2 linked regions of the Homo sapiens genome follow. The protein of the gene in region 2 purifies or fractionates together with the protein of the main gene of each other region. This does not show direct contact. Each region holds a gene or a part of one and is shown on either strand. Other genes may lie near its edges.

Evidence for each region. Proteins that work in one complex are often made in the same cells at the same time.
Region 1: the proteins of TWF2 (region 2) and CAP2 purify together in Homo sapiens (co-immunoprecipitation; 3 studies listed by BioGRID and IntAct, with this or other methods). This does not show direct contact.

The regions. Positions count from the first base shown.
Region 1 is NC_000006.12:17,396,567-17,403,598, reverse strand, and holds part of CAP2 (adenylyl cyclase-associated protein 2), read right to left. Parts: intron 1-7,032. UniProt on the Homo sapiens protein: Involved in the regulation of actin polymerization.
Region 2 is NC_000003.12:52,236,149-52,243,105, reverse strand, and holds the start of TWF2 (twinfilin-2), read left to right. Parts: upstream 1-3,947; 5' UTR 3,948-4,089; coding exon 4,090-4,114; intron 4,115-6,957. UniProt on the Homo sapiens protein: Actin-binding protein involved in motile and morphological processes. Inhibits actin polymerization, likely by sequestering G-actin. By capping the barbed ends of filaments, it also regulates motility.

The DNA.
Region 1 (7,032 bases), on a different chromosome or scaffold from region 2:
AAAGCTATTCTGATACCATTGTTACTATTAGTAGGATGTGACTTAGAAAACAACACAAATATTACAAATTTTGACAAATAATTACTAAAAGTAAATAAAAAGCAACTTTATTGGAAATCTCTCTCTTTTGAACACTTTTACTTTCCATAACTTTATGGATATGTGGATGTGTATACTTATTAAAATGAGTCCAGGTGGCTGGGCGCTGTGGCTCACGCCAGTAATCCCCGCACTTTGGGAGGCCAAGGCAGGCGGATCACCTGAGGTCAGGAGTTTGAGACCAGCCTGGCCAACATGGTAAAACCCCATCTCTACTAAAAGTACAAAAAATTAGCCGGGCATGGTGGCTCGCGCCTGTAGTCCCAGCTAGCCAGGAGGCTGATGCATGAGAATCACTTAAACCCAGGAGGCAGAGGTTGCAGTGAGCCAAGATCGTGCCACTGCACTCCAGCCTGGGTGACAGAGCAAGACTCCATCTCAATAAAAAATAATAATAATAAAATAAAAATAAATAAAATGGGTCAATGTTGAGCATCAATTTAATTCTTATTTTTTGTTTTTATCAATGTAATGCTGGGAAACATAATGAGGAGATGGAAATGGGAGGAATTTTGTTATAGAAATGTCACTTAATTTTTTGAACTCCAACATCACATGGTAGTGAAATATCAAAACTTATTTTAATTGTCAATGTAAGGAAAAATTGAGAAGACAAATTTCATGAGTACCCTAATACTTATTCATCTGGGTCATCTCAGTCATTCATTGTGTTTGACTAAGCTATTTTACAACCCTGTAGAGATATAAGTTAAGTTGCAGAAAACTGATAGTAAAGCAAGTCATACAGACATGCAAATAAACTTTATGCTGTAGAAGTCCAATCACCTTCCCTCTCCCATTGTGGAAGAAGCCAGTTTTACATGTATTAAGCAAATTCATTCCAGCATTCTTATAAATGATCTCCTTTGAACTGACTGCAAAACCTTTCTGGCTCTCTCATTTTTTAAATAAGTTTGAAAATGTCTATTTTTTATTTGTATGAGAGTCAAAATTTCATTCTTTTTTAGAGTTTATCCTTTAATATCGGTTTACTATTTGATTAGACTGGCCTTCACTTTTTGTTTTTTAAGATAGATTTAGAAAACACATGATTTGCAAAAGGGTCTCTGCTCAGGCATTACAGTCATTTGCTTTCTCACCCCTGAAACGAAATTTATACTCAGAAATTTCCCCCTTTTTTGTCCTCCCCATCCCCTAGAGTTTTACATCCTTGGGCAAAGCAATTTACTAAAATGGGTTAGACATAAACCATTTAGTAAAATGGATTAGGAAAATGGGGTAGACATACGCTTTTCACAAGGAAAGCAAGAGGAAGGTGATTATGGAAAAGCAGATGGGAAAGAGAACTTGCGTCTCCATTACAGGTCCATTCTCATCAAGATTAGTCTTAGGAAAAAAGCACATATGGAAGAGGAGGATTTGGACCTTTATATTCTCAAAGCACCTGTGCACATGTACCTTTGGCAAACCTTTGCATATAGTAAATGCACACAGTTTAAAGATTGCTGAACCAAAATAAGAAGCATAAAAATGAGTTCCATCCCCAATTATATATTATATAGAGACTCACACTATTAACAAGTCTCTTTTTAAAATTTTCAATTACTGAAGACTTTCAATTGATAATTGTCCACCTTCCATTCAGAAAGAGGCATTGAGGGGAGTGAATTCCTAAGGAAGAGAGAGGCTGTTCTGAAGCAAGATGGAAGGAGGGGGAGTGAAGGGTTGTCTACAGTGAGAACTTTGAACACAGAGAGGAGTACTAAGAAACAGAGAAGAAATTCAAATGGAGGAGAAATAAAAATGTAAACTTAAAAAAAATTGCCTAAATAATTGTGGATCTGCATTGTACCCTGAAAATCTCTAGCCACAGCTTCTAGCATGACTGCCGAGAGATAGACTATCTGCATTTAGCCTACCTCATGTCAAGTAACCAATCAGTTGAAACTGTCCATCAATCAACCTAACTCATTAGGCCAGACATTTGGTTTTCCTGCCACTGGAGAGGGGTGAGTAGCAATACCAGGACAGTATACATTCGATGGAAAGATCACACTTATATCATATTGATCTATCACTTGCACAGTTTGGGTAATACACAGGTTACTATGTTAGTTTCTTTCAGGCTGCTGTAACAAAACACCACAGACTGGATAGCTTATAAACAATAGAAATTTATTTCTCACAGTTCTGGAGGTTGGGAAGTCCAAGATCAATGCAGATCAAGGCCCACTTTCTGGCTCATAGATGGCACTTTCTTGCTGTGTCCTTACTTGGCGAAAGGAGCAAAGGGTCTCCCTTGGTTCTCTTTCATAAGGGCACTAATCCATTCATGAGTGCTCTACCCCATGACCTATTCACCTCCCAAGGCCTTCCACTCCTAATACCATCACAATGGCAGTGAGGATTTCAACATAAGAATTTTGGGAGGACATAAACATTCAGACCACAGCAGCTTCGAAGCTAAGATTACAAATGGATGCCTCCAACTCCAGTATATCACACTATAACCAGACTGAACTATACATGCAACACTTGGAAGCCTATTTTACCTGGTTCTGAAAAATCTGATCATCTCATTTTCTTAGTGTGGTCCAATTTAACTGTTCTTGTTGCCTTAGGATAAAATAATTCATTTTCATAAGAATCCAGTGATTCTTTTTTTTTTTTTTTTGAGACGGAGTCTCACTCTGTTGCCCAGGCTGGAATGCAATGGCGCGATCTCGGCTCACTGCAAGCTCTGCCTCCTGGGTTCACGCCATTCTCCTGCCTCAGCCTCCCGAGTAGCTGGGACTACAGGCACCTGCCACCACGCCTGGCTAATTTTTTTTGTATTTTTAGTACAGACGGGGTTTCACCATGTTAGCTAGGATGGTCTTGATCTCCTGACCTTGTGATCTGCCCGCCTCAGCCTCCCAAAGTGCTGGGATTAGAGGCATGAGCCACTGTGCCCGGCCAAGAATCCAGTGATTCTTCTCTGACTAAAACTAAATAGAAACAAAGTAGGAAATGATGACAATCATCCGAATAGATCCTTTGTGACTTATGTTTACAGCTTAAGTGTCATCTTCTATTCATTCTATCTTCCTTCACTGATCTTCATTTTTGCATCCCCAGATGCTAGGGATATAGCAGTCACTCAACATAGGGGGAGTAAGTCAACCAATGGATCCCAGAATTTCTCTGGATCTCCAAATGGAATGATGCAAAGTAACAGAGGTTATTTTCTCATTAAACTGTGCATAATAATAGGACAACAAAGCTGTCTATGTACTACAGGTCTGTTTTGTGTGTGTATGTGTGTGTGTGTTTTGAGATGGAGTCTCATTCTGTTGCCCACACTGGAATGCAGTGGCATGATCTTGGCTCACTGCAACCTCCGCCTCCCGGGTTCAAGCGATTCTCCTGCCTCAGCCTCCCAAGTAGCTGGGACTACAGGCACGTGCCACCATGCCCAGCTAATTTTTTTTTTTTGTATTTTTAATAGAGATGGGGTTTCACCGTGTTAGCCAGCATGGTCTCAATCTCCTGACCTTGTGATCACCCGCCTTGGCCTCCCAAAGTGCTGGGATTAGAGGCGTGAGCCACCATGCCCGGCCACTACAGGTCTGTCTTTGGTGTCTCCAGCATCTAACTTCCCCAGGAACCATCTTCCTCTTCAGAACTGCCATTTAGGTTACCTCCCTTCTATGTTCAGCCTCTTGGAACCCTCCTTCAGCCTCTCAGAATACCCCTTCCCATCAAAACAAAAGAGATTTTAGATCAGACTTCTATATTGCAGAATGGCCTTTACATTCTGAAAAGCTGAGGGCTAACAGGAACATCAAAGGTTATTTACTTCCTCCATGTATCAGGTAAATGTGAAATTTTAAGAATTAGGGGCTAGTGCACCTTCTGCAGGTGGCTAAGTGTTCAATGAGAAGCCAGGATTATTAGATGCCTAATTAACTAGACAGGGCAGATGAAGACCCCATTCATAATAGTCATAATTTCTTCTTCTGGTTTCAGACAATGTCCTATGTCCCTTTCTGTATAGGGCTGTATACTGAAAGGGAAACAATCCCTTCACATAATTTCTCAGTGAAAGAAGCCATTATTTTCCTAAAGTGGGAAAAGTGTCTACTAAAGACAGAAACAAAACAAGATGGAATTCCCCTGGATATAAAAGCTCATGTAGGCCGGGCGTGGTGGCTCATCCCTATAATCCCAGCACTTTGGGAGACCTAGGCAGGTGCATTACCTGAGGTCAGGAGTTCAAGACCAGCCTGGCCAACATGACAAAACCCTGTCTCTACTAAAAGTATAAAAATTAGCTGGGTGGGGTGGCAAGCGCCTGTAATCCCAGCACTGGGAAGGCTGAGGCACGAGAATCACTTGAACCTGGGAGGCGGAGGTTGCAGCGAGCCGAGATGGTGCCACTGCACTCCAGCCTGGGTGACAAAGCGAGACTGTCTCAAAAACAAACAAACAAAGCTCATGTAGCAAAAGGACAAATATTGTATAAGGTACTTAGAATAGGCACATTCAGGGACAGAAAGTAGAATGGTGGTTGCCATGGATTGTGGAAGAGGAGAATCCAGAGTTATATTTAGTGGGTACAAAGTTTCAGTTTCAGATGATGAAAAAGTTCTGGAGATGGACAATAATAATGGTTGCACAACAGTGAGAATGAGCTTAATGCCACTGAATAGTATGCTTAAAAATGTTTAAAATCGGACCGGGCACGGTGGCTCACGCATGTAATTCCAGCACTTTGGGAGGCTGAGGTGGGCAGATCATGAGGTCAGGAGATTGAGACCATCCTGGCTAACACGGTGAAATCCCGTCTCTACTAAAAATACAAAAAATTAGCCGGGCGTGGTGGTGGGCACCTGTAGTCCCAGCTACTTGGGAGGCTGAGGCAGGAGAATGGCCTGAACCCAGGAGGCAGAGCTTGCAGTGAGAGGAGATCGTGCCACTGCACTCCAGCCTGGGCGACAGAGCAAGACTCTGTCTCAAAAAAAAAAAAAAGTTTAAAATCGTAAATTTTATATATATCTTAAAATAGTAAAAGTAATTTTAAAATTCCTCATAATGGTTTGTTCTGACTTTAAGGTGCTTTCCTCCTTCTAAGTTCAAGGAGAAATATCCTGAATGAATGGCAAAACTCACTGCCTAACTCAACGACAGATCTAGATCTGCCCAAGGCTCATTGTTATCAGACTTACCTAACTAAATCACATCGGAAATACTAGACCACTCCGCAGGATATACAATACGAGGCAACTTTTAATGAGGTTTAGTAACTATTCATGTACTTTGATTAAAGTAATGTTCCTTTGATGTAATAATAAAGTTGTCCTCCCTCTCATCCTAAACCCAGGTGATATAAGGAGATGAAGATGTCCGTGAGTGACCGGGTTAAAAGGCTCTGCTGTGAAATTGAGTTGTGAAATTTTAGATTTTCCACACTTCTTAAAACGTTGGGAAATACTTTTACAACTAGAATGTAAATAGGATGAGAAGTCAGAATGTCAGATCTAATCATTTTATCTTGGTTTGGGGAAATGAGTAAGTGGTTACATGCCATCAATGTGTAAGTCAAAGGAGAATCAGGTTTTCTTTTTTTTTTTTTCCCATTAAAATACATGGCACATTCACAGTGAAGAACTCTTGCACATGTGTGCCAAGACACATGGAAAAAAAGTCTTCAAAGCAGCATTCTTTGTAATAGCAAAACATGGGAACCAACCCAAATGCCTGTCAACAAGAATGGTGAAATAAATCATGGAATATTTGCCAAGAAATATTACATACCTACATGCAACAACGTGGGTAATTCTTTTTTTTTTTTTTTTTTTTTTTGATATGGAGTCTCGCTCTGTCGCCCAGGCTGGAGTGCAGTGGCGCGATCTCGGCTCACTGCAAGCCCCGCCTCCCGGGTTCACGCCATTCTCCTGCCTCGGCCTCCCGAGTAGCTGGCACTATAGGTGCCCGCCACCACGCCCGGCTAATTTTTTGTATTTTTTAGTAGAGATGGGGTTTCACCACGTTAGCCAGGATGGTCTCGATCTCCTGACCTCGTGATGCGCCCGCCTCGGCCTCCCAAAATGTTGGGATTACAGGCGTGAGCCACCACGCCCAGCCCAATGTGGGTAATTCTTAATGACCTAATGTTGAATTTTAAGAATGCAAGATTAGGCTGGGTGCGGTGGCTCAGGCCTGTAATCCCAGTACTTTGGGAGGCCGAGAACGGCAGATTACCTGAGGTCAGGAGTTTGAGACCAGCCTGGGCAACATGGTGAAACCCCTTCTCTACTAAAAATGCAAAAATTAGCCAGGCATGGTGGCCCGCGTCTGTAATCCCAGCTACTCAGGAGGCTGAGGCGGGAGCATCTCTTGAACCTGAGAGGCGGAGGTTGTAGTGAGCTGAGACTGTGCCACTCCATTCCAGCCTGGGCGACAGAGAGAGACTCCATCTCAAAAGAGAATGCGAGATTATAAATACCTTTTTTCATAAACCAAAAAAACAAACCTAAACACTATTGTTTTGGAATACATACACATGTGATAAAACTGTTTTACAATAAACCAGGGAATGATTAACACAAAATTCAGGGTTGGGAGGGACATGAGAGCAGGCACAGAGGAAAAACACAAAGATGCAACTGGATACTAACAATCTAGTACTTTTTCCCCTAGTTTTCTGTTTATTTTCTTTAACAATTTTATTGAGATGTAATTCACATACCACACAATTCACCCATTAAAGGTGTACAACTCAATGGTTTTTAGTATATTCACAGATACGTGCGACTATCACTATAGTCGATTAGAGGATATTTTCATGTTTCACCTCAAAAAGAAACCCTGTGACCTTTATCTATCACTTCCCTACTCAACCCACCTCCAGCCCCTTCAGCCCTAAGCAACAAAAAATCTACTTTCTAGCTGTATACATTTCCTTGGTCTGGACATTTTCAAATGAATAGA
Region 2 (6,957 bases):
CAAATGGATTATTGATCTTTTCATAAAGGAAAATAAAAATTTCAGGACCCCCAAATTTGTTATGCTAAAGGGAGAGTTAAGCTTGGAGACTGAGCCACACAACACTGGCATTCCTTTTTTTTTTTTTTTTTTTTTTTTTTTTTTTGAGATGGAGTCTTGCTCTGTCACCCAGGCTAGAGTGCACTGGCACAATCCCGGCTCACTGCAACCTCCGCCTCCCGAGTTCAAGCAATTCTCCTGCCTCAGCCTCCCCAGTAGCTGGGATTACAGGCACCCGCCACCATGCCCAGCTAATTTTTGTATTTTTAGTAGAGATGGGGTTTCGCCATATTGATCAGGCTGGTCTCGAACTCCAGACCTCAGGTGATCCACCCGCCTCGGCCTCCCAAAGTGCTGGGATTACAGGCGTGCTGGGATTACAGGCGTGCTAGGATTACAGGCGTGCTGGGATTACAGGCGTGCTAGGATTACAGGCATGAGCCACCACACCCAGCCTTTTTTTTTTTTTTTTAATTTTATTCCGGCAACACTTCATTCTATGCTGCAGAACTAATGTTCTCCAAAACTGTCATTCTTTTCCCAAATGGATACCTGTTACCTTGCAACCTTGTGTCAAAATATTATGCATTAACCAGATCCCCACAAAAAGGCAAAAAGCCTCATGAATCTCCAGGTGACTGCAATCACAAATTGCTCAGCAGTAAATTCTTTGCCAGTCCCTAAAACTTTCAGGATGTATATCCTCCTATAAAACAAGGACATGTCAACTGCAACTTTAGGTCTGCAACCTAAACCTAACTCCTAAAACCAAAGTCTGTTAAATTTCACACTGACAATGTCAATTACAAGTTTATCTGCCCAGGTGCAGAACAAGGATAAGATGAGATCAATCATTCCTCCACCTAACCTGAGACCTCTGCATAATTGGCTCTTCTGTTACTCCCTGTTCTTCCAGTGTTCACCCTATCTTCCATATAGCTTAGATTTACGGGACACTAATTAAGAGTCTCACAAAAACATAACCATTTGCCTCACTGTCTTCTCCCCTTTAAAGAAATGTACAAATATTGAGCCTCCTGAAAACTTCTTGGGAGAGCACAGGCCACAGACGTTTCTTTGACTTGTGTTGCTTTCCTGGGCACGCTCCAACTCTGGCTCAGTAAACCTCGATTGATTGAAGCTCTTGCCTCAGTCTCTTATTTGGGTTAAGATTTTCTTTTTTTTTTTCTATAGACTAATTTTGGAAGTGAAAGATTTTCTTTGATGGTTTCTGTGTTTGGTGACACAGAAGTTTCCTCCACTCCAGATTCTACAAACTCCTCCCTTTGTTTCTTCAGTATTTTTAAATTTTTTAAGAGAGCCTCACTCTGTCACCCAAACTGGAATGCAGTGGTGTGATCACGGCTCACTGCAGCCCTTAACTCCTGGGCTCAGGTGATCCTCCTGCCTTAGCCTCCCAAGTAGCTGGGACTACAAACATGTGTGACTGTGCCTGGCTAATACATATCTATCTATTAATCTATCTATCTATCTATAGATATATATATGTAGAGATGGGGTCTTGCCATCTTTACCAGGCTGGTCTTGAATTCCTGGCCTCAAGCAGTCCTCCTGTCTCAGCCAAGTAGCTGGAACTACAGGTGTACATCACCATGCCTGGCTAATTTTAAAATAATTTTTTTTTTTTTTTTGTAGAGATGGAGTCTCACCATGTTGTTGTCCAGGCTGGTCTCAAACTCCTAGGCTCAAGAGATCTTCCCACCCTGGCCTCCCAAAGTGTTAGGATTACAGGCATGAGCCACTGTACCTGGCCCCCAACTTCTCGAATAAAATGAAACTATGATTCTTGGCCTCACTCACTACCATGTGACATTGATCAAATCACTTCACCTCTCCAAACCTCAGAGTCTTTATCTGTAAGATGGAAAAAGTAACACCTACTTCAGGGGCTGTCATGAGGATTAAATAAATGTGCCCAGCAGGTAGTAAGTATACAACACAAAGCATCTAATGGTTCATTCATACATTTGCTTATTTTGCAATTATTGGCCACCTGCCAATGTTGGGCACTGTTCTAGGCACAGGGGATACAGCAAGGGCAAACACCTAACTACTGGTGGAGGGAAGACGATAAACAAATACGTAAAGATTTGTGCCAGGTAGTGATAAAAGCAAAGAATGACCCATGGAGAGGGTCAGCTGGGGAGACCACGCAGTACCCTACTTTGTCACAGTTCATCCAGTGAGGGACATTTTTACAGGGCACATGACCTTAATCTTTTTCATTAATCTTGGTTAATTCATTTCCAGGAGGTCAAGTCTCTTGTGGTTCTGTGGAATCACCAGATGCTCCTGTGGGTGTGGCTTAGTCTGAGCTGATGTAACAAGTAGCTCTGTGTTGCTGGCACCATCTGGCTGTAGCAGGGTTCAGTGTGGGAGGCCTTGCCTGTGAACTGTTCTAGAAGGCAAGCTGCAGGGCTGCATAACACTCCATTTTCCACTGTGAGTGCTGGGGGGACAGTGGTTAGCAGATGACATAGGCCCAGTCTTCAGGGTGAGCGCAGGAAGATGAATGAGAAAACCCTTCAATTCTGTGTAGCTGGGCTCTCTGGGGATGAGAAACTCAGGGGTTGGGGGGCACAGAGGAGGCCTCAATGCAGGCTAGTGAGGGTGGGGAGCAAGACAGTAAATGGAGCTGAAGCTGGGGCCAGATGCCAGGTAGGCCACACATTTCATCATCACATCTCTCAGCAACCCCAGCCCAAAAAGCTGGCCTCCTTTCCAATCTTCCCAGCCAAAGTCCCTGGACAAGCTGATTGGACCAACCAGAGTCAGATGCTCATCCCTGACTCATCACAGTGGCCTGGAAGATGCCACATGTTGACTAGTTGGTAGCAGCAGGCAGGTACTGGTACCAGTAAGGCAAGGCTGCTGGATATAGACACAGAAGGTCATTAGGACATGGGAAGTTCCTCACCAGGCTCTGGCCCTCTTTCAACCTCTGGGCCTTTGCACATGCAGTGCCCTCTTCTCAGAAAACCTTTCTGGCTGGGACTAGTAAGTGGCTCACGCCTGTAATTCCAACGCTTTGGGAGTCCGAGGCGGGCAGATCACCTGAGGTCGGGAGTTCGAGATCAGACTGACCAACATAGAGAAACCCCGTCTCTACTAAAAATACAAAATTAGCCAGGCATGGTGGTGCATGCCTGTAATCCTAACCACTCGGGAGGCTGAGGCAGGAGTGAACCCGGGAGGCGGAGGTTGCAGTGAGCCGAGATCGCGCCAGTGCACTTCAGCCTGGGCAACAAGAGGGAAACTCCATCTCAAAAAAAAAAAAAAAGAAAAAGAAAAAGAAAGAAAACTTTTCCCTCCACTCTGCTGGGCTGTTTCATTCTCCCCTCTAGGTTTCCAATCTTCGCCTTCTCCTGGCAGCCCCTCACATTGTCTCGGCGGGCTCTCACCACCATACACTCCATCTAGTGGGTGAAGGCGGGCCTAGGCCCGTGAGGGCAAAGCCTAGCGGCCATGATCACCCCGAGGTGCCCAGGACCCCACGGGAGGCGCTCAAGAAACGGCCCCTGGGGAAGAGCTGGCGCGCCCACCCACAAGCAGACCCCTTCCTGGGTGCAAACCCGTGTACGCTGGGACCCACTCCTATTCGGAGACCCACCTGGCTTGGGGCGCACAGATCGGGCGCGCGCGCACGATCCGCCCCACCCACAGACCACCGTGATCAGGGCGCACAGACACACACGCGCGTCCTCCCACGCACGCTCGGTCACACGCAGGCCCCCCTCTCCTGCCACAGAGGAACGCGCTGGCGTGCGCACGGCGGATCAATCATCATCCTTAGACCCACCCGGACCGAGGCGCAGGCTGCGCGCACGCGCGGCCCCGAGTCCCCGCCTCCCTGCCGCGCCTGTCGGGGGCGGGGCGCCGCTGGGGGCGGGTCCTGCGGCACCGCCCGGGAAGCTGCGCGAGGGTCGACAGCCTCCGCCACATCCTCCACCTCTCTTGGTCCAGCGAGCGTTGCCGGGCCAGGGTCAAGCGGAGGGCTCCGACGGCGCGGACGGAGCGAAGCGCCGAGCCATGGCGCACCAAACGGGCATCCACGGTGAGGGCGGATGGCGGGCGGGCAGGGGGCCTCGGTCTGGGCTCTCGGAAGCGCCCCCCCCCGGCTCTCGGCCCCTCCCTCCACCCCACACCAGCCGGGAGAAAGCTTCCTGTTCTCTTTTGCAGCCGCGGGTCGCCTGGGGTGGGCACATCTGGGGGAGTACGGACGTGGTGTGCATAGCTGGGAGTGGGTGTATGTGTACGTACACAACTGGGGTGGAAGTATCTGTGTGCCTACCTGGAGATGAATGTGGCTGTGTGTGCCCATCTGTATATTTTTGTTCCTTTCCGGGAGTGGGTGTACACGCATGTGCACACGTCTTCCGTGTACAGTCCTGCCTGTGCACCTCTGGATGTGACTCGCTTGTGTACATCTAGGGTCATTCATGCACTGGCACTAGTGACTGTTTGAATGGACACTGTAGGTCGCATAGGACCCTCTTTAGACATCAGTGTTTCATGGCAGTGTGCACATGTATGTGGGTGTCTGTGTGTGTGCACAGTTGGAGCGCGTCTCAGTGTGCATTTTTGCCAAGGATGCATATACCGCATGTGTCTGACTTGAATGGGCTTGTTTATGTGTGTTAGGAGAAGGCCCTGACCTTTGCTCCTCCCAGGACACTCACTCTCCCCAGGCTAGGGAAAACCCGGAACAGAGACTTCTACGTGGGATGGAGAAAGCTGCCTATCTGACCTTGACCTCTGACCTCCCTCCCATTTTCCACTGTGACTTTCTGAGTCTGCCTCAGTCTGGTTGGAAGATCCCAGCTCCAGGCTGCAGACAGAGAAGAGGTCCAGATATGGGGTTTTGTGGGGAGAGTCCTGGCCCTAAAGAATCCAGGCCAGCTCCCACCCCCAGCCCCCAGCCCTAGGAAGCTTCACCATTCCCGCATCACACCCTCCCCTCCCCTAGGGGTCCCAGTTTCCTTCTTGGACAGGCTGTGAGAGAAGCAATGGCTGGGAGCCAGGTGCCCTGACTCTACCTGGGGCTCAGTGTCCTCCTCTGTCACTGGCCTGAGAGAGCTGCCTGGCCTGTGGGGAAGGCCCGGGCTGTTTGCCCAGACAGCCTGGCGGGTTTGGCCATCAGCCACCCCTCCCACCACACTAGGATCCCCTGCCTGGGGCTGCCACCATCGACCTGCCTGACCACCTGAATCCTGGTGCGGTTGTGGCCACTTGGTGGCTGGGCTGCCCTGAGAAGGTTTCCCTGGCCCCGCGAAGGCAGGGGCCTGGGTCAGGGCCAGGGCTCCCAGATGGGCCAGCCTTTCTCCAGGAGGAGCTGGCGGGCAGGCTTCATGACTCAGCCCCACAGGAGGGAACTGCCTCCTGGCCAGCTTCTTCCTTCCCCTTTGTCTGGTCATAGCTGCTGCCTCCCAGCCTCCAGCCCTGGTGGAGGAGATCCCAGGAAGTTAGCCACCCCATACCCCTTCCCTGCTGCCTCACTCCCTCCTTTCCCATAGTGAGACAGGCCCACCGAGGGGGTCACTGGGGACTGGGCTGCCCCTAGCCCTCCTTCCACCTGTGAGCAGCCCACTTCTTCCCATTTCTGGCCTGGGAAGTTGGCAGCAGAGATCACCCTGGAGGACCAGGTGCCAGCCCTGTCCTGACCATAGGTGTGGATCTGCTGACCGCAGAGTAGGCAGGAAAGGGACCTGTAATGTGAGGCTCACTTGAGTCGGAGGGAGGGTGTTCATGAATCATTGATAATAGAGGCTCAGGTGTCCCAGGCCTGGCCTCTGGATTATTGATGGTGGCTGGGCAGGCATTGGGGCTGGGGTGGGCAGGGATGTGCCTTTCCCTGTGGGGGTGTCAGTTTGCCCTGGTAACACTAGAAGGGGCCCGTCGGCCTGTCCCTTAGGGGAGCTTCTTGGCCTTCCTTCTGGGAAGGTCTGGGCAGGTAGAAGGGGCAGCTCAGCACAGTCAGCTTGCTGTTATTATCATAATAAAAGATTAATTGTTATTAATAGAGGCCACCATCGCCAAGCCCTTTCTCCCATTTACCCCTCACCACAGCCCTGCCAAGTTTGGGGCTATTATTTCCATTTTATACACTGAAGTTCAGAGAGGTCAGGAGTCACACAGCTGAGGGAGAAGTGGAGCCCCAGAGGCCAGGCTTGGGGCCTCAGGGACCTGCTTGGGATCTGCCGATGGAAAGTTCTGTCCTGGCCCAGTGGGATGGTGTCCACCTGCCTACAGTTCCATGCCATGTTTCTCTGAGCCCTAAGGGTCTGCTGAGCTCAGTTGGGCCCCAGCCCACCCAGTGGCCTTGGAGGGTGGTGCATAGCCTGAGGTCTCAGATTAACGGTCACTCTGCAAAGGGGGGGCACCTGAGGACATAACCAGAGTTTGTTTTCCTAAAGGCCCCCCCGCCCCTGAGTTGCCCAGTCCTGGCCCTATAAATATTCTCTGACCTCAGGCCTCCAGCTGTGTTCCTGACGGAATTCCCCTGACCCTTGGGCAGCCTCAAGGTCACACTGGCCTAGCCCTGCTCACCCAGGGACCCAAGCAGGGCCCTTCCCCACATGGGCCGTGGTGGTTTCCCTGTCCACTAGTAGATCCACCACTTATGGCTCCCCAGCTCTCACCATGGTCCTCACCTCTGCCCTGGGGTCCTTGGTCACTCACTGGCTCTCACCTTCCAGCTCTACAGCCCAATGACCAAGATGGAGTCTCTTTTTTTTTTTTTTTTCTGAGGCGGAGTTTCACTCTTGTTGCCCAGGCTGGAGTGCAATGGTGTGATCTCAGCTCACTGTAACCTCCGCCTCCCGGGTTCAAGCGATTTTCCTGCCTCAGCCTCCCGAGTAGCTGGGATTACAGGTGCGTGCTACCATGCCTGGCTAATTT